Linked DNA regions of Homo sapiens. The protein of the gene in region 4 interacts with the protein of the main gene of each other region in a biochemical or structural test. Each region holds a gene or a part of one and is shown on either strand. Other genes may lie near its edges. The genes, in order: HDAC7, KCNJ12, SLC34A1, SYNJ2BP, GNG4, SLC17A1 and CSPG4.

What was found.
Region 1: the proteins of SYNJ2BP (region 4) and HDAC7 interact in a test that uses a peptide from one of them, tested with the Homo sapiens proteins (one large-scale study listed by IntAct).
Region 2: the proteins of SYNJ2BP (region 4) and KCNJ12 interact in a test that uses a peptide from one of them, tested with the Homo sapiens proteins (one large-scale study listed by IntAct).
Region 3: the proteins of SYNJ2BP (region 4) and SLC34A1 interact in a test that uses a peptide from one of them, tested with the Homo sapiens proteins (one large-scale study listed by IntAct).
Region 5: the proteins of SYNJ2BP (region 4) and GNG4 interact in a test that uses a peptide from one of them, tested with the Homo sapiens proteins (one large-scale study listed by IntAct).
Region 6: the proteins of SYNJ2BP (region 4) and SLC17A1 interact in a test that uses a peptide from one of them, tested with the Homo sapiens proteins (one large-scale study listed by IntAct).
Region 7: the proteins of SYNJ2BP (region 4) and CSPG4 interact in a test that uses a peptide from one of them, tested with the Homo sapiens proteins (one large-scale study listed by IntAct).

What each region holds. Positions count from the first base shown.
Region 1 is NC_000012.12:47,809,904-47,813,403, forward strand, and holds part of HDAC7 (histone deacetylase 7), read right to left. Parts: exon of another isoform or gene 3,178-3,500; coding exon of another isoform or gene 3,027-3,177; intron 1,051-3,026; exon of another isoform or gene 1,032-1,050; intron 1-1,031. UniProt on the Homo sapiens protein: Responsible for the deacetylation of lysine residues on the N-terminal part of the core histones (H2A, H2B, H3 and H4).
Region 2 is NC_000017.11:21,382,857-21,386,356, reverse strand, and holds part of KCNJ12 (ATP-sensitive inward rectifier potassium channel 12), read right to left. Parts: intron 1-3,500. UniProt on the Homo sapiens protein: Inward rectifying potassium channel that probably participates in controlling the resting membrane potential in electrically excitable cells. Probably participates in establishing action potential waveform and excitability of neuronal and muscle tissues.
Region 3 is NC_000005.10:177,383,162-177,387,233, reverse strand, and holds the start of SLC34A1 (sodium-dependent phosphate transport protein 2A), read right to left. Parts: upstream 2,801-4,072; 5' UTR 2,747-2,800; intron 1,540-2,746; 5' UTR 1,493-1,539; coding exon 1,384-1,492; intron 1,248-1,383; coding exon 1,098-1,247; intron 1,014-1,097; coding exon 885-1,013; intron 812-884; coding exon 668-811; intron 1-667.
Region 4 is NC_000014.9:70,369,045-70,372,090, reverse strand, and holds part of SYNJ2BP (synaptojanin-2-binding protein), read left to right. Parts: 3' UTR 1-3,046. UniProt on the Homo sapiens protein: Regulates endocytosis of activin type 2 receptor kinases through the Ral/RALBP1-dependent pathway and may be involved in suppression of activin-induced signal transduction.
Region 5 is NC_000001.11:235,548,785-235,552,284, forward strand, and holds part of GNG4 (guanine nucleotide-binding protein G(I)/G(S)/G(O) subunit gamma-4), read right to left. Parts: intron 3,454-3,500; coding exon 3,325-3,453; 3' UTR 1-3,324. UniProt on the Homo sapiens protein: Guanine nucleotide-binding proteins (G proteins) are involved as a modulator or transducer in various transmembrane signaling systems.
Region 6 is NC_000006.12:25,784,734-25,787,052, forward strand, and holds part of SLC17A1 (sodium-dependent phosphate transport protein 1), read right to left. Parts: intron 1-2,319. UniProt on the Homo sapiens protein: Important for the resorption of phosphate by the kidney. May be involved in actively transporting phosphate into cells via Na(+) cotransport in the renal brush border membrane. Plays a role in urate transport in the kidney.
Region 7 is NC_000015.10:75,702,849-75,706,348, reverse strand, and holds part of CSPG4 (chondroitin sulfate proteoglycan 4 precursor), read left to right. Parts: intron 1-3,500. UniProt on the Homo sapiens protein: Proteoglycan playing a role in cell proliferation and migration which stimulates endothelial cells motility during microvascular morphogenesis. May also inhibit neurite outgrowth and growth cone collapse during axon regeneration.

The DNA.
Region 1 (3,500 bases), on a different chromosome or scaffold from region 4:
AGTCCTCACAACTCTGTAAGGCAGATACTGTTTTTTTGTTTGTTTGTTTTGTTTTGTTTTTGAGACAGAATTTCACTCTGTCACCCAGACTGGAGTGCAGTGGCACAATCTCAGCTGACTGCAACCTCTGCCTCCCGGATTCAAGTGATTCTCCTGCCTCAGCCTCCCAAGTAGCTGGGATTACAGGTGCAAGCCACCATGCCCAGCTAATTTTTGTATTTTGGTAGAGACGGTGTTTCACTATGTTGGCCAGGCTGGTCTCAAACTCCTGAACTCACTGAATCCACCCACCCTGGCCTCCCAAAGTGCTGGGATTACAGGCGTGAACCACTGCGCCCGGCCTATATACTGTTATTATTCTCATTTTGCAAATGAGGAAACTAAGGCTAAGAGAGGTTCAGAAACTTGCTGAGGTCACACAGATGGTATGTGGAGCTGCTGGGACTCCAGAACCTAAGCTTAGCATCGGTACACTGGCGTGGACTGCTTACTCAGCCTGCCTCCTAGTAGTGGCTGAGGTGAGACCACCAAGGGGACAAGGGGATGCAAGACACAGTGAGGCCCTAGGGTATGCTCCCAATGCCAGCCTGTTCCCACAAAGTGTGCTGTGTTCCACCCCTGCCATCCTCAATTCCTTTTTCATCTTCTATTTCCCTTCCTTTTTAAATGTACATTTTACCATTTTAAAGTGTACCATTTAAACACTTTACAGTGTTTCCTGTTAGCTGCCTCCAGCAGGGTATAACTAAACAAGCAAACCTCCCAGGGCTGCCACAGAGGATCAAACGCTGCGTGAGCTCTCTGGAAACTGTCAAGCCCTCTACAAAATGCGGGTTGCATAACCAGAGCAAGTCACCCTCAGAGTGGGTACTCGGGGGTAAATTCTCTTGGGAGGAAAAGGTCTCTCTCTCTCTCTCTCTCTCTCTCTCTCTCTCTCTCTCTCTATCTCTATCTCTGTCTCTCACTCACGGGCAGGCCTTGGGCAGGTGGAAGCGCTGGAAGCACCCACAAGTGCAAAAGGGAGCACCTACCTTCAGGGCCACTTTCTGGGGACTAGGAACACAGCCGCACGGCTATCAGCATCCCTGGATCTGGGGCAGAGGAAGGCAGAAGCCACAATGGAGACCCTGGTCTGCACTCAGTAAGAACCAGGCAAACCGAACTGAGGCATCTCGGATGTGAATAGCCACAAGCTGTGAATCCTGACACTCACAGGGATGCCACATTAACATTAATGACAGTAAATACCCTAGAGGTCCCATCCCAGTGGTGCCCTAGAATCCCCCTCCTTTTGCCTATTACTTTGGAAGACAGCAGAAGTCTAGTGGGCAGATTCTCCACGTGACCTGATTCCCTTTTGCAGCCAGGCTGCCCTTGAGACTTGGTTGAAGGGGTTTTTCCAGATCACAAATCCAGCTAGGGTGCTTACACTGCCTTCAGGTCACTCAACAGACAGATGGCATGGTCCTGGGTACTGATTTGGACAAACCAGCTGTAAGGACAATTTCTGGCCAACTGGGAATTCCGTTAAGATGAAAATTTACTGTAATGGAAGGTGGAAATCACTGACTGAAAAAACAGTATATGCAGAGTAATCTCATTTTCATAAAAATTACAACACATAAAGACACATACGGAAATGGAAAGATGTGCAGTGATCTCTGACTGATGCGTCTGTGATGTTTTTTATTTTTTAGTTTTTGCTGGTCTGTCCTGTCTGAGTATCCACAATGCACATGGACTGCCTCTGTAATAATTACGCAGCATATATACGTACATAGACACAGCCCATGGTAGCAAAGTCAAAGTGTGACCTCGGGCTCCCGTGAGCATTAGTCCACAGGGTTTTCACCGCCCCCGGGTCTTCTTGGACCATATATCCTCTGAGGTTCCGTGTTATCTACAACCTAGCGTCCTCTGCCCCTCCTGAGTCTCGCCAAGGGCCTATAACACAGAGCTGGGCACAAAGTCAGGACTTACTTAATGAATGCCTTCTGGCTGAATAATGATCATTTCCTGAAAGAAATGCCTCATGCCTCTTCCAGAGCCGCTGTGCTGGGAATACTCACTGCTGACATCACTGACCTGCCCACCCCTCCTCTGTTCTTCATAAGAGCAACAAGGGAAGGGCTAAAATAAAGTTCACCCCAGCAGATGCTGGCAAGGTACTCCACATCAGGGCCATCAGGGGCAGCCCCATCCCAGACCCTCCCCAAGCTGGCACAGCAGCCCCTCTCCAGGGCCAGCTGGCTTCAAGGCCCTGGGGTCCCTCCTCGCCCTGCCTCACTGGGAGAGGCTGGGAGAGGGAGTGAACAAGAGAAGCAGGGGTCCACCCTATGACTTCTGGCTACAGCTCTCTGGCTGTTCCAGGCCGCGATGGGTGGAGGAATCTGGAACAGGGATTTGGCCTGGTTTTTTCTGTGAACTGGGGCTAGGCCCAGTTTCTGTTCTTCGTGTCTGCAACATTCCCTATCCCTGACCTTCAAAAAATATGAACAATAACATTAATAATGATGATGAATATTCAGTGAGCCCTGACTTCATACCAGGCACAGAGCTAACTTTATTTACATTATCTCCTTTAATCTTCATAGCAACTCCATAAAGTTGAAACTGTAATTATTTTCACATTACAGATGAAGAAGTGGAGGCACAGAGCAAAATGTGCCCATAATCACACTTGCAGGAGAAACCGAGACTCAGCCAAGGCCATCCCATTCCTCCCTCTGCGTCCTTACAGGAAGCTCTCCTGCCAGGCTTTGCCATATATACAGTAGGGTCTAAGGCGATAATTAACATCTGTAGAGTGCTTTAAGCACTAAGTGGGGCACAGAGAAAAGCCCCACTTGAAACTAGGAAATCGAGTCTCAGAGCCATCAGCATCCTTACTCAAGATCCCACACCTTTCGACTAAGATTCAAACCCAGATCTCTGGCGTCAGAATGGCACATTTCTTCCCTATTATCACACGATGCCCCTGGCTCACTCTCAAGGCGGCCCCGGCTGCCTGGAAGGGAGAGTCACACCTCCTTCAGCGCTGGAATCTGGGGGGCGAGGCCTGCGCTCAGCCCCTCGCCCGGTGGGGGTGGGGTGCTGCGCCAGCACCTCCTCAGCGTCTCCGCCGTGACTCACTCCCGGGACCCAGGGGAAGCACAGCCCTGCGCTGCGGGCAAACATCGTCCGCCGCCCGCCCCGCCTCCAGCTCCCCGCCTCCACATTTGCTAACCGAAACAAGGCTGCTGCTATTTTTAACCCTCCAGCTCCCCCTTGCCTGGGGCTCCCCCCTTCACCTCCCCACCCCCCGCCCCAGCCGGGTGCCACCAGCCTGTCATTCTGAGAGCAGTTCTATAACCTGAACGCGCCTGGGAGGGCGCAGCGGACGTCCCGGACGTGCAGGTTTGTGGGGCAAGCAAAACAAGACGGTTACAGCCCAATCGCCGAATTCCCCCACCCCAGACTCTTTCCGAACCTGTCACTCCCAGACTGCCCTGCTCCTCCTG
Region 2 (3,500 bases), on a different chromosome or scaffold from region 4:
AACAGAAAGAGTGAGAGAGAGGAGAGGGAGAGGCAGCACAGGGAGAGGAGACCATGTGAAGACAAGAGGCAGAGACTGGAGATGCCCACAAGCCAAGGAATGCCAGGACCGCCAGAAGCCCCAGAAGTTGGGGGAAAGCCCCAGAATGGCTTCTCCCTCAGAGGCTCCGCGAGGAACCAGCCCTGCAGACACCGGTTTCAGACGTCTGGCCTCCAGAACGGATGCTGCATTTGTACTGTTTTAGGCCACCCAGTCTGTTATGGTGGCAGCAGCAGGAAACCAACACAGGGTCTCACTGGCTTGCCGCCCTCTGATCCCTGCCTCGGCTTTCTTTACTGGACCTGGTTGGTGGTGCTGCCAGACTCCTGCCCCAGTGCTCCTTCCACACCCCAGATGCAATGGTAGGCGTGTGGGTTTGCCCAACCCACTTTCTCTAGTGTTCCCATTTCACAGGGGAGGACACTGAGGCTCCCAGGGTTCCTGCTCCCCACCCACTGTCCTCCCAGTCTCCTCTCTATTACCTGCCTTTGATCTGGGGCATCCCCACCCAGCGGCAGCTGGTCCTAAGGCCACCAAGAGCCTGGTCATGAGCCCTGGTGCTGCAGAGTCAGGGCATCTACCGTGGGATGGAGGCCAGGACCCATGAGTGGCCTGGAGGCTGTGCTGGCAGGGCCCAGGCCAGCCTCCACCCTGCAGAGGAAAAGAGGAGGGCAGCGGGGTCTCCTCTGTTACACAACCCCCAGGGAGGGCCGGGGCCACTCCACGGCTACCTCCTGGGGCACTGCCTCCAGTGGTCTTCAAGGCTCCCAGGGCCTGGGGAGGGACCTGGCCGCTCTGACTGGGCAGGTGCTGCTGACAGCTTGCAGCCCAGCAGGCCGGGGTGATGGCAGGGCCGAGCCTCCGGCCACACAGCAGAATAGGGATCAAGGAGGCCAGGAAGCTGCCCTGTCTTGCCTGCAGTGCCCAAGCCCAGAGGGAAGGAGAGAACAGATGCCCAGACACGAGAATGGACTGCCTCCCCATTTCACAAACATGGAAAGTGAGGCTCATAAAAGAAGGGCACCAGGTATATCTGATCCCCACAGACACTGAGACAGATACTGAGAGTGACCACAGACTAGTCACTCTCCCAATCAGTGTAGCAGATCCTTTCTAATAAGGGGCCCTGGTGGAGTAAGGTGGGACCACCCTGATGCATCTCAGGCCAGGTTCCAAGGAATGACAAGGATGGGACAGGCACTGAGATGCGGAAGCTTGGAGACAGGTCAAAGTGACATTCCTGGGTCGGGCACGGTGGCTCACGCCTGTAATCCCAGCACTTTGGGAGGCTGAGGCGGGCGGATCACGAGGTCAGGAGATCGAGACCATCCTGGCTAACACGGTGAAACCCCGTCTCTACTAAAAATACAAAAAAAAATTAGCCGGGCGCGGTGGTGGGTGCCTATAGTCCCAGCTACTCGGGAGGCTGAGGCAGGAGAATGGCGTGAACCCGGGAGGCGGAGATTGCAGTGAGCTGAGATCGCGCCATTGCACTCCAGCCTGGGCGACAGAGTGAGACTCCGTCTCAAAACAAAAAAAAAAAAAAACAAACAAACAACAACAAAAAAAAAAACAAAGTGACATTCCCCACACAGAGGCCTGCCCCAGCCTGAAGACAGTGAGGGAACAAGTGATCCTGTTTCTAGGAGGTCAGGGCTAAGGGAAGAAGAGAGGCTAAAGGAAGAAGGACCCCAGTGGGAGCAGCAATGAGCGCCTCCCCTCCGAGCTCCAGCGTGTCTACTCTGCCCTGAGTGGGAGCCAGGTTCACCCAGAGGTCCCAAAGCCCCAGGCTGCGACTCTGAAGCCCCCCAGACCCTCTGAGCTCTGGGGATGGAGGCAGGGGATCTGGATTATCCCAACTCCCAGAGGGATGTGACGAAGGAGGCACCCAGGCGAGGACTCGGTACCTCTCCTGGTACTTAAACCAAATCCTGCAATCCAGGATCTCTGTCTCAACGCAGCTAAAATGACAACGAAAAGAACCCATGACTCACGGACTTCGGTGGCTCTGTGCATTCAGATGCCACAAAGATCCTACAGTCCCAAGACTCAGCCCTCAATCCATGCCCAGGACGACAGGATGAGACCCCCTGGGTCCAGTGGGCACGGGCACCACACAGCAGTGCGCATAGTGCAGGGGACGCCATGACATGTATGCAATGGTCCCATACGAATTTAAAAAAAGGCAACTTAGATATTAGCACGTTTCTATGCCTCCATTTACTTATTCACGTCTGCATAAGCACTGAGAAACCCAGAAGCCTCTCTAATGATGGTCACCCCAAGGACAAGAAACTCTGGGGGTGGGGGAGGCAGGGGGTGAGGAGGAGAAATTCACTTTTCCCCTTACAACTGTTTATCACTTTACTGTGAGCACATAACACTCTTATAATTAAAAACTGTTATATTCAACAAAATATGACAATGCCCGTGATGGCTCATGTGTTTTTTGTCTATTTCATCCTGCCCCACCCACTGAGATGTCAGCCCCCCAGGGCAGGGGTCTTGTGCAGGCCACATCCCCAGCCACCTGCTGAGCTCAGGAATGAGGCCAAAATCCTGCATCCTCAAAGCTCACCACGCAAATACCTGACCTCTAGGACCTCTAGGATTCTCTGAGAAGGGAAAGGAGGGGATGGAAAGAAAGGGACATCCAGGGGACAGGCTGGGGGTGGCTTGTGATTGGGGATCCCCAGGGCCAAACAGGTGGCTGTGACCCCTGAGTTTGCCCCTCCCAGGCCCTATTTCCACAAGACCCAAGACTGTCAGAAGCCCCACTTTTGAGCATCCCCAACCTGCCCCAGATCCCAGCACCCCTGGAAGCCCCAGGTCTCCATCTGCCTCTGCCCTCCCTGTGATCATGCCAGGACCCGCCCCCTCCGGCCACGCCAAGCTCCCCTGGACCCTCTCTGGCCTCGGCGCCCCCCAGCCCTGAATGGAAGCCTGGCTTGGCCCGGAACCAGGAGCCCCGAGGCAGAGGGTCGGGGCGGGGTTGGCTCGGCTGCTGCCACACAGAACGCCAGCTGCTGGCAGCGATTTATTTTTGCTTTAAGTGCTGGAGAATTGCAGGCCTGGAGCCGCCAGCTCGGGCCCGGCTGCAGCTGGAGCAAGCGGGGCGGGCAGGGGCAAGGGCACACCTCCGGCCACCAGGCCACTCCATCCCCCTTGACCTCTCCTGCCCCCGGCCTTTCATCCTCTCTATCATACACATCTCAGTCTCCACATGCTCCCTTCTCCCCGGCCCCTCCCCTGCCAAGTCCCCAAAAGCTGCCTGGAAGCATCAGGGACAGAGGGTCTGTGGCCTCAAGGCTGCGCCCCAGCCTTCCTCCGGGAACTGTGTGACCTCCGGCTGTGGGGACCCTCTCTGGCCTCAGGCTGCCCGCTCCCACAGTGGAGGTGTCACGTCGCACCCTCCTGTACACCCTTGGGGTGGAGGCAGGGAGGGCTGAGAAGTATCCCTG
Region 3 (4,072 bases), on a different chromosome or scaffold from region 4:
TTTGTTGTTTTTTTTTTTTGTATTTTTAGTAGAGACAGGGTTTCACCGTGTTAGCCAGGGTGGTCTCGATCTACTGACCTCGTGATCTGCCCCCCTCAGCCTCCCAAAGTGCTGGGATTACAGGCATGAGCCACTGCGCCCGGCCAGTGATGGTTAGTTTTATGTGTCAACTTAGCTAGGCTGTGGTACCCAGTTATTCAACCCAACACTAGCCTGGGTGTTCTGTAAGGTGTTTTGTAGATGCAATTCACGTCTACAGTCAGCTGACTTTAAGAAAAGGAGATTATCCTTGGTAACCTGGGTCAGCCTAATCCAATAGAATGAAAGGCCTCAAGCAGAACTGAGGCTTCCCTGAGAAAGGAGAAACGCTGCCCTGTCTGGACTGCAGTGTCGGCGCCCACCTGAGAGTTCCCGCCTGCCCTTCCAATGCCCTGGCCTACGGATTCCTGACTTGCCCAGACAAACTACCATCGGGGAAGCCAGTTCCTTGCCATAAATCATCTGGGTCACATACAGCTACAGTTGGGCTCCTCTCATGTCCCTGGCTGATACAGGAGTCAAGCTGAATGGAGGCCAGCCTTACTGGGGTCACGCTCCCCATTTGCCACCCTTCCCAGCTCCTGGGGTGCCCCTCCAAGCTCTTCCCCACCCTGGTGGGCCAACTCACAGCCAGAGGAGACCATGCTGACGATGATGGATGTGGAGGTGCTGGAGCTCTGCACCAGCACGGTCACCAGGATCCCCACCACCAGCCCGGCCACCGGGTTGGACAGGATGGCGTTATCCTTGAAGATGTCACCAGCCACCTTCCCTGGGGAGCATGAGCCAGCGTTGTCCAAGGCCCTTCAGGAACCCCTCCCAGGTCTCCTCCACCCGGGCCCTACCTCCAGCCAGCTGGAAGGCCGAGCTGAGCATGTCCAGGGAGCAGACGAAGAGGTAGAGGAAGGTGAGCATCAGTGGCACCTTGAGCAGCATGGCGCCAGCCTGGCGCAGCTTGGGGACCAGCCTGGACTCTGGATGGGGGAAGCCATGAGCATAGTGGGCAGAGGCCAGGGCAGGGACTGCTGCCGCCTCTGCCACCCCCAGCCCAGGCCCACCTGGCTTCTGCTCCTCCTCCAGGGCCAGCTTGGCAGGCAGTGGTTCATGGCGCTCCAGGACCTCCCCACAGGGGCAGGTGTGCTCAGCAAGGGCCACAGGGCCCAGGCTGGGGAAGGCATAGGCAGAGGTCCCCGGGATCCTGTGTAGGACTAGGGAGGGAGCCTGGTCAGGAGCCCCAGGGCCCCAAAGTGGGGAGGCGGGGAGGAACAGGCGGGGGAAGTGGCCTCATCCGGGATGTGGGCAACCGTGGGCAACCAGGGTCCAGGGTGTGGGAGCAGCACTTACCCTGAGGGCTGGGCACGTAGGCAAAGGCCGTCCCTCGCATCACATGCCCCCCACGGACTGGGAGTGGGGAGACAGCAGGGGACCCCAGCCTCTCTCCGTAGGACAACATCCTGGGCACCCACTATGAGGTCTGCAGGTCAGTGGGTCTCAGCAACGCTGAATGACAATAGCTGTGTCCGGGACACTCATGCCCACACACCCTCACCTGCACAAACCCCCATGGCGCATGATTCCAAATACACACCTAGCAAAGCACACCCTCCATCCTCACCACACACACACACCCCTCCGAGACTCACACGCACAAACACACACCCAGCAAACCACACCCTCCATCATCACCACCACAGCCCTCCGAGACTCACATGCAGACTCACATGTGCACATCTGTGCTGGGCACCTGCATGTGAGTCTCGGAGGGGTGTGTGTGGTGGTGGTGAGGTGATCATTCATTCACCATTCACTCATTCAATGAGTATTATTGAGCTCTAGCCCAGGCTCCGAACCAGAGGCTTGGATATAGCATTGATAAAAGACACTGAGAACTGAGGACGCCCAGCCTGTTTGGGGCTGGAGGGGGCCAGGGAATACGTGGTGTTGGCAGTGGCTGCAGGTGTGGGCTGGGGCTGGGCCGGGCTTCAGTTTTGCCCACCTGGAGAGCAAGGAGGAGCTGCAGACACCTGCCTTCTCATGGGGTCAGCTGGGCACACACGGAGATCCCCTGGGCCGGATCCCGAGTTCCTGGGTTCCCCTCACAATGAATTCCTTTCCCCATCCACCCCCTCAAGGGGCAATGAACAAACACTGACAGGCTTGCCTCAGCCCCCCCTTGTCCCCGCACTGCCCCAGGAGTCTTGGCTATTGGGGTGGAGTGCCCTGATCTGCCTCAGCACTCCCCGCATTGTCCCAGCGTCCTTGGCTGTTGTAGGGGTGTGAAGAGTTGAATTCAAGTCCTGAAGGAGCAGGAGTCCTTTTTTTTTTTTTTTTTGAGATGGAGTTTCACTCTTACCGCCCAGGCTGGAGTGCAGTGGCACAATCTTGGCTCACTGCAACCTCTGCCTCGTGGGTTCAAGCGATTCTCCTGCCTCAGCCTCCCAAGTAGCTGGGATTACAGGTGCCTGCCACCACACCTGGCTAATTTTTTGTATTTTTAGTGCAAACTCGACCTCAGGTGATCCGCCCACTCGGCTTCCCAAAGTGCTGGGATTACAGGTGGGAGCCACCGCGATTGGCTGGACTGACATGTTATATGGGGCGCGGTGGGGGTGGGCGCAGATAGGACACAGATGAAGGGGCTGGGGTGCTGGGCTGTTTCCTACTCAGAGCTGGGGGTGGGGTTGGGATGTGAGGGTCCTGGGCTCACCTTAGAATTCTGTGTTTCAGCTTCTGCTCAGCAGCTCAATGAAGCCTCCAGGACCCTGAGGAGAACTGAGACCCTCCTCTTTATACTCTTGGGTCAAGGGCAAAGTCCCTGGAACCCTAGCTGCCCTCCCTCTGTCCCCCAATTAACCTCACCCCTGAGATTCCTCCCAGTTAATTGCTAATCGTCAGCTCTGCATGGGGAATCTATGGTCAGGTTCTTCCCATCAACCACGACCCAGACACATCCCCCGCCTGCAGGCAGAGACCCTGATGCCACTCAGCACCTTGTTCCCAGGGTCCCCTCGTTCCTGGCCTGACAGGACTCCCCAGGGAATGACCCAAACATCCTATGGCCTTCGGAGGTTGCAGTGAGCCAAGATCGTGCCACTGCACTCCAGCCTGGGTGACAGAGTGAGACTGTCTCAGAAAAACCAAACCAAACCAAACAAAAACATCCTATGGCCTTGCCAAGCGTCGGGGTGTCTGTAAGTCTCCCAGGGGGAGCTCAGAGGAGAGGGAGTGTGAGATGAGGACCTAAGCTGGAAAGGCCGTGGAATGTTGAATCGTGGCAGGTCTCTAATGCCCGACCATGGGTCCAGGATGTGAGTCTGAGTGAATGTGGAGCCGCTGGCCAGACTGGGATGGGCCTGATCTGCCTTTTAGAATGGCCCCCGGGGTGGAACCCGGATATATGGAAGGGAGCCTGGAAGCGGAGGGGCCAGTTAAGAGGCTAATGGTCCAGGCAGGAGATGATGAGGCCTGAACTCCGATGGGAACGGAGGGGCTGGGGAGGACAGGTGCATCCCAGGGACATCTGACCAGTAGAATTGGTGACGGGGAGGGAGAGAGGAAAAGGAAATAGATGGGAGTCGGGTCTCTGGATCTTTGGCTAGGGCTGGGTTCATGCCCAGGTAGGAGGGTGTCGCTGAGTCACGGAAATGCAATCAGTTCTCAGTTCTTGTGTCAGAATCTCTGGGTCCTTGGGCTTGAAGGTGCTGTTAATGTCACATCGAGTGTCTCCACCTATGAGCAAACTGACACCCCCACAGCGGGCCCAGAGACCCCGGCCCACGTGACCTGTTTCTCTCCATTCCCCCGTGCAGTTCAGACCCTTGGCAGGAGCAGCTGAATCCAAGGTGCTCCTGGTGAACTGGGGGTGTTTCTCCTTTTTAATAAGGTTGTGCTTTTTGATATTTTTGAAGTTTGCCTTCCCTGCTGTCACGGAGCTCTGGGTTTAGTGGGGGAGGCAGTTAGCTATCGATCAAATCCATCAAGAGATATAATTCCAAAATGCTGCTGATTTACACAGCCACCACTTCTAAAGATT
Region 4 (3,046 bases):
TATTCTTATAACAGCCAACTATGGTGAGTTATTATAAGGTAAATTGCCATAATCCAGCGCTGCTCACATCTAAAAAACTTTGAGGTGTAAAGGTAAATCGTACCAATCTCTGGGCTGCCCTAGTGACTTTTTTGATACCTCAGAGTCCTATTGAAGAACCAGGTGGAATGATTGTGGTAAGGGCTATAGTGCTGGAGCCAAACACCCCAGCAAGAAAACTCTAAAAGGACAAAAGATAAGGTAGTGCCTCCAAGGTGGCACCTGAACCCTCTCAGGCTACTTTTTGGTTTCTACTAACAAACCTGAGGGAAGGAACTGCCTCCCTGGCAGGATGGGCATCAAATCAACTCTGGCTTCAGATTTAGTTAAAATGAGGCCGGGTGCAGCGGCTCACACCTGTCATCTCAGCACTTTGGGAGGCCGAGGCAGGCAGATCACAAGGTCAGGAGTTCAAGACCAGCCTGGCCAACATGGTGAAACCCCATGTCTACTGAAAATACAAAAATTACCTGGACATGGTGGCGCGTTCCTGTAATTCCAGCTACTCAGGAGGCTGAGGCAGGAGAACTGTTTGAACCAGGACCTGGGAGACGGAGGTTGCAGTGAGCCAAGATCACGCCACTGCACTCCAGCCTGGGCTACAGAGCAAGACTCCATCTCAAAAAAAGAAAGGCATGGATTGCTAGTATTTTTGAAAGGCTTTATACACTACATACGGCTTTTAATAAACCTTTTTGCAGCAAGAGGGAGGAAAAGAGTTTTGTTTGCTTTAGGAGGTAGGGAAATGTGGTAGGTGTTTCATGCGGCCTAGGAGGAGGATATGAATGAATGGATACTATGGAATGCCAGTGATCTCGATAAGGTGGGAACCATCCTGTTCATGTTCTTTTAAGGCTGGTTTTAAGCACTATGGGTAGCTGAATTTTCTGGCTTTAAGAAAATCATTTCCATTAGCCAAATATATTGGCCATACTATAGGCCTTTTATAATTTTGTTAGCAAGATTATCAGGACTCAGGCAATCAACTGTATTTCATTTCTAGCTTGGACAGTCTGGTAATTAAATGTTGATTGGACATCAGCTTTGTCAAGACACTTTTACAAAGAAGTACAGTGCATATCCTCCATCCCATAGGGCTTTTGGGTTCCAACTGCGAAGACAACACTCTTATTGGCCACATAGGTAGGACAGTGTAAGTAGGGGTCATGTTTATATTACAGACAGCAAAAGAGAAAAGTTACTGAGAACTGGGGCGTTTGAGAAAGTTACGTGGAGGAAAGGGACAAGTTGAAGACCCTTAAGGGCCTCACAGCCTAGTTAAGAGAATTCATAAACAGGTGAGAAGTTAAAAGTATATCAGCAGGCTAAGTATTGAAAACAATATTAAAGGGGTACCATGCAAAACACGATGCAGCAACAAAGAAGATATGCAGGTAATCATCACATTTTCTTTTAGAAATTCAGGGAAAAAAAGATGTCACATAATGGCATCAGGCTCAATTGGAAAGGGAAGGCTTTTGAAAATAAGAGGTCCGGTAAGACCTTGCCTCTGGGTCACTACTGGTATAGGGAGAAACTTGCTTTAAACAGTCCTGACATAAAGTGCCTTTTGACATCAACTATTCAATACCTTTGAGACTCACTTAGACAACTGGACTCATTGTAGGTTCCACAGAAAAACACGGACAACATTCTAGTTGTCACTCCAACCAGCCACACTAGGAGGGCACAGCCTCTGGTACCCTTTCTGTTCCTGAAGGCATGTACAGCGGCTTCTACAGCAAGCTTGCTTACCTCCCAGGATTCACCTCATGGTTTGGACACTGATTCCTGAGAGAGCCTTGAGACACACAAAGTGAAAAAAATGTCAAGCAGGAATGAAAGCTCTAGTTTTTTGCTTGTTGGTATATGTAAATTTGTTTAAAAAGTATCCATTCTGTCGTTGGTAGAAGTTTTGCTTTGGTTGATAATAGAGATTCTGATGTACTCTTATAACTTAGGTTTTCTCAGAAATTAAGTAGCATTGAAGATCAATGTAATACAGTTTTAAGCAGGTACACTAATTATATTATTGATTCTATAGAAAACTAAAATTATAGATGAGGTATCAGGATCCATTATAGGTTGTAAAAAAATTCATGTTCTTCATAGATTGAGTCTAATATTTCTTCTATAGATTGCATCTAATGTTCCTACTACCTAAATTATTACGTTCAAAGTTTTGAAAATTGAACGAAGGTATTTTTAAGTACTTAAAACATTTCTCTATCATTCTGTATTACATGTATAATTATAAGATATTGTTTGCTTCAACTAGCTGTACTTTGTTTTCCTGTGAAGTTTCAACTTATGTGTTATCGATTTAACTTAATTGTTCCATCTAGCCATGTATAATGGAAAAAGGAAGTTAATATTTGTTATTGTGTTCTATGCCAGGGACTGTACCAAACTCTGATTGGTACATTATTTCATGTCTCATAACTCTGGGATCTAAGTATTGTCACAAAGAGACTAAAAATGAGAGAAAAAATTACTTGACTAGGATTATGTAGGTGGTAATAATAGAATCAGGATTTAAACTCAGGACTTCAGATGCCAGCATCAATGATATTCTCTCACTGGAAGTGGTTCTCAAAGCAAGGTCCTGACAAAAGCATCAGCGTTACTGGGGAACTTGTTAGAAAAGCAAGTTCATAGGCTGGGCATGGTGGCTCATGCCTGTAATCCCAGCACTCTAGGAGGCCTAGGCAGGTGGGTCACTTGAGCTCAGGAGTTTTGAGACCAGCCTGCACAATGTGGTGAAACCCTGTCTTTACTAAAAGTCAAACAAATTAGTGGTGCATTCCTGTAGGCCCAGCTACACGGGAGGATTGCTTGAGCCCAGGAGACTGAGGTGCAGTGAGCCGTGATTGCTCCACTTCATTCTAGCCTGAGCAACGGAGTGAGACCTTGTCTCAAAAACAAAAAAACAAACAAACAAAAAACAAAAAGCAAGTTCCCAGAAGAGAAAAAAGAAGTTCCAGACCTAGTGAATCAAAAACTCTGA
Region 5 (3,500 bases), on a different chromosome or scaffold from region 4:
TGCACTCCACAATGCAAGCAGGCTTTATTCCATTCATCTTCCACTGACAGAGTGGGGGAGCTCAGTGACATGTCTGTGGATCTCACAGCTCATGTGCAGAAATCTCCATCTAAGAAGAGGGAACTAGGCCAGGCGCGGTGGCTCATGCCTGTAATCCCAGCACTTTGGGAGGCCAAGGCGGGCGGATCACTTGAGGTCTGGGCTTCAAGACCAGCGTGGCCAACATGGTGAAACTCCGTCTCTACTAAAAATACAAAAATTAGCCGGGTGTGGTGGCGGGCGCCTGCAATCCCAGCTCCTCGTGAGGTTGAGGCACAAGAATCGCTTGAACCCAGGAGGCAGAGGTTGCAGTGAGCCAAGATTGCGCTACTGCACTCCAGCCTGGACGACAGAAAGAGACTCTGTCTCAAAAACAAAAACAAAAACAAAAAAAGAAGAGGCAGCTGGATTCAGGATCACTCTAGGAAGGGTGACCCGTCCCCAAATGCCATAGGTCTGGAAGAGGTGCAGTAAAAGGACAGAAAAGCATCTCACAGGGGAAGGTAAGGAAGAGAGGAGGAAAAGGAAAAGGAGAGAGAACAAAACGGAGGCTGAATCTGGAGGGACGGGGCATGTAAAAACAACAGGGAGAAGGTTTGGTGGAAGAGGAAAGCAGCATTTTTCTGACCTGATTTTGATGCTCTCTGTACGGCCCCGCTTTCTCGGCTTCTCTGATGTGCCTTTATGACTTGTGCTTCGCTTCATCGGGTTAATGATGTTGACGTGAAGCACAGAATAAAGAGATCCTGGTCATAACTGCACTATCAAAGGATCTGAGGTCCTAGCGTCACATCCAGCATACAATTCTGCTCTAGTTTGAGCATCTTAACAACACTGGTATTATTAGTGAGCTGATAATGAAACTAAGAATGAGTTTTAACAAAAGAAGCAAGGAACAAAGATGTCCTAAATCCATTTACGAGGGCAGCAAGTCATTAATTGGTCTGGAAATTACATTTGCCTCTTTGCAGGCAATTTTATGCCTCCAACGGAACCATGGTCTCTTTGAAGTCATCCATTCTTCCCTATATTATACCACGGCATTTAGTACATTTATTTGTTTTAAATGATAATCAGAGCTTTCATCTATGTAGCATCTCTGTTTCCTCCCAGACAGAAAGGCAGGATAATTACCATTAAACCCAATTTGCAGGTTAGAACATTTCAGGCACAAATGGCCTGTTCTCTATCACACAGCAAGTCTCTTTCAGAACTAGGGAGAGAGGCAGTTTCCAAATAAACAGAATAGAACAAACTTACACAAAGAGCTCTGCTCCCACTGTGTATTCTCCTCTTTCATCGGGATCATATGAGTTTGGTTTAGGTAGGACCTTCAGGTTGATCTTAGACAATCCAAGAGCTAATTCATCGATGTCTAGCCTTTCCTTGGGGCATCCATGAATCACCTTCCTTAAACTACCAGAATACGGCTTCCTCCTGGAGAATGTGGGAAGTGAAGTGTGCCACGGGTTACTGCAACAAAGGTGTTTGCTTCACGGTGTGCAGTTATGATAGTTTGTGGGTCTCCCTACCTGCAAACAGGTAGACCTGGAAGGTAGCACAGTTCAGGGGGCTAAGGGAACTCTGGGGCCGGGCTGCCTGCCCTCAAATCCCAGTTTTTCTGCTTACCATGTGTAACCTTGGGCAAACTACATAAACGCTTTGTGCCTCAGTTTCCCCTCACTCTAAGACATACGGCCGGGTGCACTGGCTCACACCTGCAATCCCAGCACTTTGGGAGGCCAAGGTGGGCAGATCACTCGAGGCCAGTAGTTGGAGACCAGCCTGGCCGACATGGTGAAACCCCGTCTCTACTAAAAATACAAAAATGAGCCAGGCATGTTGGCGTGTGCTTGTCATCCCAGCTACTAGGGAGGCTGAGACATGAGGATCACTTGAACCTGCGAGTGGAGGTTGCGGTGAGCTGAGATTGTGCCATTGCATTCCAGCCCGGGCGACAGAGCAAGACTCTGTCTCAAAAAGATAAATAAATAAAATAAAACAGACATGCACTTATGGTATTTATTGTTGGAAGATTGAGTACCTTAATGCACACCAATGCTCAGATGACTTGGGGGCACATAGGGGACTGCTGTCACCATGCCTCACTCCTGCAGGGAAGGGGCTGCCCTACTAAAACCCCAGCGGGCCCAGTGCTGTGTCCAGAACAGGTCCTTATATTACTGCAGCCCACAATGGAACTACTGAGTAGGAGCCAAAAGAGGAGGGAGCAGGAAGAGGTGGCATTTGGAGAGGGGAGACCGCACCCACAGGTCTGCCACAGCGCGTCAACGGTATGGGGTACTTTTACAGTCAAGTTGACTTCGGTGTCCGCCCACCATCTACCTTTGTAGGACCACTGAAACAAGGGACATCCACCACGGCCCACAGCCGGGGCGCCACGGCCCCAGGAGGATATGCTAAGAAAACCATTCCACGGCCGGGTGTGGTGGCTCACGCCTGTAATCCCAGCGCTTTGGGAGGCCGAGGCGGGTGGATCACGAGGTCAGGAGTTTGAGACCAGCCTGACCAACATGGTGAAACCCCGTCTTTACTAAAAATACAAAAAATTAGCTGGGTGTGGTGGCGCGTGCCTATGATCCCAGCTACTCAGGAGGCTGAGGCAGGAGAATCGCTTGAACCCAGGAGGTGGAGGTCGCAGTGAGCTGAGGTCACGCCATTGCACTCCAGCCTGGGTGACAGAGCGAGACTCCATCTCAAAACAACAACAACAACAAAAAAAAAACAAAAGAAAACCATTCCAATCCTGTGGGTTGTTGTCTTTTTACTAGGATGATGGAAATGCAGGAAATACAGAACCTCTGCAGCTGCTTTCTCCAGGAAAGGAGATGAAAACGTTATATGTTTCAGTTGGTCAAAATGCTCTAATTTGATACTGAATATTGCAAATAAGGGATATTTAGGCATAGTTTTTTTTTTAAAATAAATTATCCACTGAAATGTATTAATATGATATAAACTTGGAAACTGATGTTTAAAAATTTTAAACTCTTAAGTCCAGACTTACTTTTACATGGCACATTTGTTATTTGGCTATAAACATTTTGATTTTCTTTGCCAATAATGAAAATAACATGAAAATGAAAAGGAAAAAAATGAAATTGAATGCCACGAAGAAAACAGATGGAAACATAAGACAAGCCCCGGCCACTGTTGGCTGGGCAGGGATGGGTGTTGGTCTCACTCCCTAAGGCTTAGAGCATGCATGGTCTCTACAGGGGACTTTGAAGGTCAGAAAAGGAGGCGTTTTCATCACACACGGAGTTAGAGAATGGTACAAAAGAACTTCTTCTCGCGAAAGGGGTTTTCTGATGCAGGCACTGGAATGATGAGAGGATCTTCCCGCACGTGAGCTTCACAGTAGGCCAGGAGGTCCGCAGCTGCCTGGGAGACCTGTGAGGGCACAGAGCACAGGTGCTCAGTTAAAGGCCCCTTTGCAG
Region 6 (2,319 bases), on a different chromosome or scaffold from region 4:
GAGTCATACGGCTCTGAAACAGTTCAGGTTACATAAAAGTTAAAGCCTCAAGAGAGTGTAGATGAAGAAAGGCTTTGTAAGAATTTTAAAATATGTGTTTTCTCTCTAAGATCACGAACAAGACAAAGATGTCTACTCTAGCCACTTCTGCTCAACATTATACTAGGGGTTCTATACAGGGCAATTAGGCAAGGGAAATAAATAAAAGGAAACTAGATTGGAAAAACAGAAGTAAAACTATATCTTACAAATGATATAATCTTGCTTACAGAAATCCTAGGAAATCTACTAAAAATATTAGAACTAATGAGTTTAGCAAAGCTGCAGGACACAAGATCAATATACAAAAGTCAATTATATTTCTATACACTTGCAATGAGCCATCCAAAAATGAAACTAAGAAAACAATTCAATTTCAAGTAGCATAAAAAATAATAAAATACTTATAAATAAGTTTAACAAAAAGAGTACAAACTTATATTCGAAAACTTCAAAATATTGTAGAAAGAAATTAAAGAAGCTGTCTTAGCTAAGGCTGCTATAACAAAATACTATTACCTCACACTATTTTTAAAAACCATCTCAAAATGAATCAAAGACCTAAATGTAAGAGCTAAAACAATACAACTCTTAGAAGAAAACTTAGGGGTACATCTTCATGACCTTTGACTTGGCATTGATTACTTCTATATGACAACAAAGCCACAAGCAATAAAAGAAAAAATAGATAAATTAGACTTCATAAAAATCAAAAACTTTGCTTCAAACTTTGCATCAAAGGACATTAACAAGAAAGTAAAAAAAGACAACCTATAAAACGGGAGAAACAATTTGCAAATCACATATCTGATTCTTATCAGTCTAGTATTTAGAATATCCAATACACTCTTATAACCCAACATCAAAAGACAAATAATTAAAATGTGGGCAAACACACTGAATATATATATTTCTGTAAAAAAACAGAAGAATAGCCAATAAGCACATGAGAAGATGTTCAACATAATTACTTATTAGAGAAAAGCAAATCAAAACCATAATGAGATGCCACTTCACATTCACTGAGATGGCTACTGAAAAAAAAAGAAACATAACAAGTGTTGATGAGGATATGGAGAATTGGAATTCTACATTGCTGGTGAGAATGTAAAATAGTCTGATGCTGTGGAGAAGAGTTTGGCAGTCCCTCAAAACGTTAAACCTAGAATTACCACATGACCAGCAACTCCACTTGTAGGTATATACCCCACAAAATTGAAACATATCTTCACATAAAAACTTGTACACACAAATGCACATAGTGGTCTATTCACAGCAGCCAAAAGGTGTAAACAACTCAAATGCTCCTCAGTGGATTAATGTATAAACAAAATGTAGCATAGCCATACAGTCGAATACTACTGGGCCACAAAAAAAGAAGGAAGTATTGCTACGTGCTACGACATGAGTGAACTTTGAAAACATGTCAAGTGAAACAGGTCAGTCACAGACATATTATGTAATTTCATTTACATGAAATGTACAGAATAGGCAAATCAATATAGACAAATTATATCAATGGTTGCTTAGAGCCTAGTCTGTGTTTGGGTGGGCCCATGGGTCAGCTGTTGGCTTTCCTGAGGAATCTGGGAGTGAGGGGCTCTGATTTTCCACCCGAGGAACAAGGCAGAAAGACACTGACCACTGCATTTGAAGTGGACAAGACCTCTCCATTTTGTTGGACCAGAGGCTACATGCGTGTTTCCCATGGATTAGATGCAGGTCACAGAGGACTGATAGCCAGGCCCAAGGGACCACCTAGAAGGGAGAAGGGATATCCACAAAGGGAGATTTGTGTGGAGTGGATCTGTGATGCCAAGGAGATGGGCAGCTGGAAAAACCAAGTGCATTTCCTGCCTTGTCAGCCTCTTATGCATGAAGAAAAGGGTCTGCTTTCAACACCTACTGGCCCAGGGAGCATGTGGGCAACTGACAATGGGGCCAAACAAGCCAGAAATTTCCATGCCTGCTTCCCCTCCTTTCTCTCCTGGTCACACCTCAGGAGGGGTCAGAGGTGGGGTCAGCATCCTAGCGGATGAGGAGAAAAGCCAGACAGAAGAAAGTGCTCACACCCCTCTCCCTGAAGGAGAAGGTCCGCCTGCAGCTTTGTCCCAGCTGGAGACACAGGGAAGGAGTCTTGTATGTGTATGACATTTGACTAGCTAAATTCCATATTTAAATAAATATTTTCAGTTATCTAACTGGGAATGTATGCTTGCTATTTAAAGTGACCACAGTACTTTTTACTACCTAAGAGGGCTTAACAAGGAAATAAATAAA
Region 7 (3,500 bases), on a different chromosome or scaffold from region 4:
CCTGCCCCGAGCCAGCAGCCCCAGGGAAAACCCCCAAAATCAGGACACAGTGCCTCGTTCCCCCGCCAGGGCAGGCCCTCTGGCCTGGGCCAGTCCACTCTCTGGGGAGACAGAGGGGGCTGGGGAGAGGAGACGAACTTCCGTTCCCACCTAAGAGCAGCCCCTTCCCCCACCCACATTTCAGGAAGGGGCAGCTATAAATACCAGTGGGACCAGGACACTGATTCCCACGACACCCGCTTCTCCCTGCCCCTTCCCTGTGCACAGTTGCTGGGGCCAGACCAGCTCTCCTGCAGCTAGAGTCCAGCCAGGCAGGCCTGAGGCCTAGCCACACACACACAGAGACACAGACATACGCACACAGGCACACACAGACATAGATACACACAGACATACAGACACAGACACATGCACACAGACACACATACGCACACACACACGCACACAGACATATACACACAGGCACAGACACACACATATGCACACAGACACATACAGACACAGATACACACACACACTTTTACTTCCCACCCTGGTCAAGGAGGAGCAAATCACCCTTTTTGGGAGTCTGCGAGCAGCTGAGAGGGAGCCCCTCCCCTGCCCCTCAGCCCTGACCCAGGCCCCATCTCTCCCTCCTCTGAGTCCTGAGCTGTGGGAACCCACACAGGGAAGCAGGAGGCCAGGCACATGGTGGTGAAACACGGCATTAGAGAGCTCAGGTTGAATTCCAGCCCTGACGCTCTATGCATGACCTTGGGCAAGTGACTCTGTCTTTCTGAGCCTCAGTTTTCTCCTCTCTAAAATGGGGATAAATAATTCCAACCTCTTACGTGTTGTAAGGATTAAGCAAGACACTTTGCCTGGAATCAATGCTCGGTGGACATCTGCTCCTGAAGCTGCAGTCACTCTGCTATTAGCATCTTCTTCCCAGGGTGGAGTGGCCCGGCAACATGGGGACTTCTGCTTAGGAGTGTTTAAGGAAGATTCCGAGGCAAAGGCCTAGAGGAGGTGGCCCCGTGAGTCTGTGTGGGACTAAGTGACATGGAAAAGGAGAGGTGGGCTCTGGAGAGGGTATCAGCCAGCGGCTGCCTGCCAGCCCAGGACCCTTCAGAAGGTGGGAGGGGGTGGGGGTCTGCATCTCTGTGGCTAACTGGGCTGAGGCCCACACCCCTCTCTCAGTGCTAGAAGAAGTGGGGACAGCCCCTGCCTGGCCCTCCCCAGGGCCTGTTTCTCCCAAGCCTAACAGCCCCTAGGATGGGGCTCACTGGGCCGGGGCACAGCAGGAACCCCCTGTCCCCAGAGCAGGTGAGTGAGGAGAAGAGAATGAGCAGGCCCCAAGACCTTTTATGGGACGGGGACCCTAGAAGCCTGTCTTTTCCCTGCTCTCTACCAACCCCTCGCGAGTCCCTCTCTGGAGGTGGGGGCTGGAGGCCAGGGCCCAGGGACGTGGGACAGCTCACCTGCCAGAGTCACCATGGGGCTGTTACCACCACTCATGATATAAGCAGTGGTGGCTGCATCACGAGGAGCAGAAATCCGGACTGAGGGAGGGGACAGCCCTCTCCGCTCTGGGCTGCTAGGACCCCTCAGTGGTATGGGTGTATGTGAGCTCAGAGTAGGGGGAGGTGTGGGGAGGTGACTGAGGTGACTGCAGAGTGGGGTGCACAGCTCGGGGCAGGGACACTGGAGGGACCCCGGACAAGGGCAGGCCTGTGCCTGAGCCCTCAGGGCAAGATCCCATTGTGCAGGCCCCCACTGCCTTCACCCACGTAGAGGTGACTCTTCTCCACAGACCCCTGGACAGGGCCCGGCCAGGCCCCCCACCCACATGTTTTAATGGAATCCAGGTGGCTGCCCCTGGCCAAGGTTCCATCTCTGGGCATCTGGGGCCCGTGTGCTTCTGGCCACCCATCTGGAGCCTGGCTGAGCCCCTCCAGGGGTGGGTACTCAGACGGGGGCTGTCCCTCCAACCGTGGACAGCCCTGGGGCCAGCGAGATATTGTAGAGGCCTGAGCCAGCTGGCTGATGGTGCCACAGCCCTTGGGCTACCTGGCCCTGCTATGTGGCCTTGGGGAGACCCCTGGCCCTATCTGGGCCTCTGGGTGGAATCTTCAGTCTCCTAGGTCAGCTCTAAATTCTGAGCTTGAGCCTCTTGGGAACAGGACAGGGGCCTCTGCCTCTATCTAGAGAGAGCCAGCTGCTTGTCCTGGGCCAAGCAGCAAGGCAGGCTAGGCCTGGAATGGGGCTGAGAAGCAGCCCAGCCTGCCAGGACTCCCTGGCATTGGAAAGCCACTTTCCTAAGTTGGCATGGAGCCCTGGGGCTCCCCCCGGGATGAGAGCAGCGGCTCCTCTCCACCCCCGGCTCCCATCTTCCACCCCCTGGCCCCAGCCCCGCCCTGCCAAAAATAAACCCAGACCACCCCATCTTGTACCAGCCAGACCCACCCAGCCCCTCCAGAGCCAATTGAGTCACCACTCAGAGCTGCTCCTTTTTTAACTGTCTGAGTCACTGCTTGTGGCTCCATGACACATGCCCCAGGCTACGGTTACCCCACAGCCCCTACAAGCGCAGCCAAGGGAGGGGTCTGCGTAGAGGCTGGCAGCAGGTGTGAGTCCAGGCCATAGCCTTAGCTTGTGAGCCCTCCAGGCCTAGGGAACTCACTCCATAACAAGCCAGAGACCAGACCTGTCCCTCAAGGTCCCGGCCGTGCCCAAGACAGCCCTTGGGGATCTTGGTGACAAGGTCAATCTGGGCTCTGCCCCACCGCATTGCGTTGCCTCCAACAGGCCTGGGCCTTCCCCGTGGAGACTGCCGGGAACGGAGGGTCTCCAGCCCCTAGACCCTGGAGGCTGGGGGTGGGCGAGGCCACAGAGACGCCTGCTTCCTCCCTCCTCACCGGCTCCACCCGGACTCTGACCACGCTGCCTGGAGCACCATGAAGACTCTATGGGACGGAAGCCACACTTCAGTCTCCCCTCACGGCTTCTGTCTGCCCCTGCGCAGGGTCACCCGGGCTGCAGAGCACCCCCGATCTCTCAGTCCATCCCCCCATCCCGCTCTCTCCATCTCTCTGTCCTTTCCCACCCCTGGCTGTGGTTCCTCCATCTCTTTCTGTCTGTCTTTCCTACCCTGTCTCTCTGTCTGTCTGCCCATCTCTCCAGTCCTGCTCTGTTCTCCTTCCCTTCTCCTTTACCGGGTTCCACGGCAGTCAGAAGTGCTCCCTGCCGCCAGCACCCCACCCGTCCCCAGGGCCCTCTCTGCCTTCTCAGTAGACATAACAGACCCTCACCTCCTCCCATTCCCACAAGGGACTCTGGGCCCCAGGGACCAATCCTGAGAAATGTTCCGCTCCCCTCACCAGGTCCTCCCGTGCCCCAAAGTGCAGGCTACATCCTGTCCCAGGGAGTGTCAGGATCCCACAGGCACTTCCTTGGGGGTTGACAAAGGCGGGCAGGGGGGCCTGGGAATGGCCCCACCTCCCAGTCCATGCTAGAGCAGG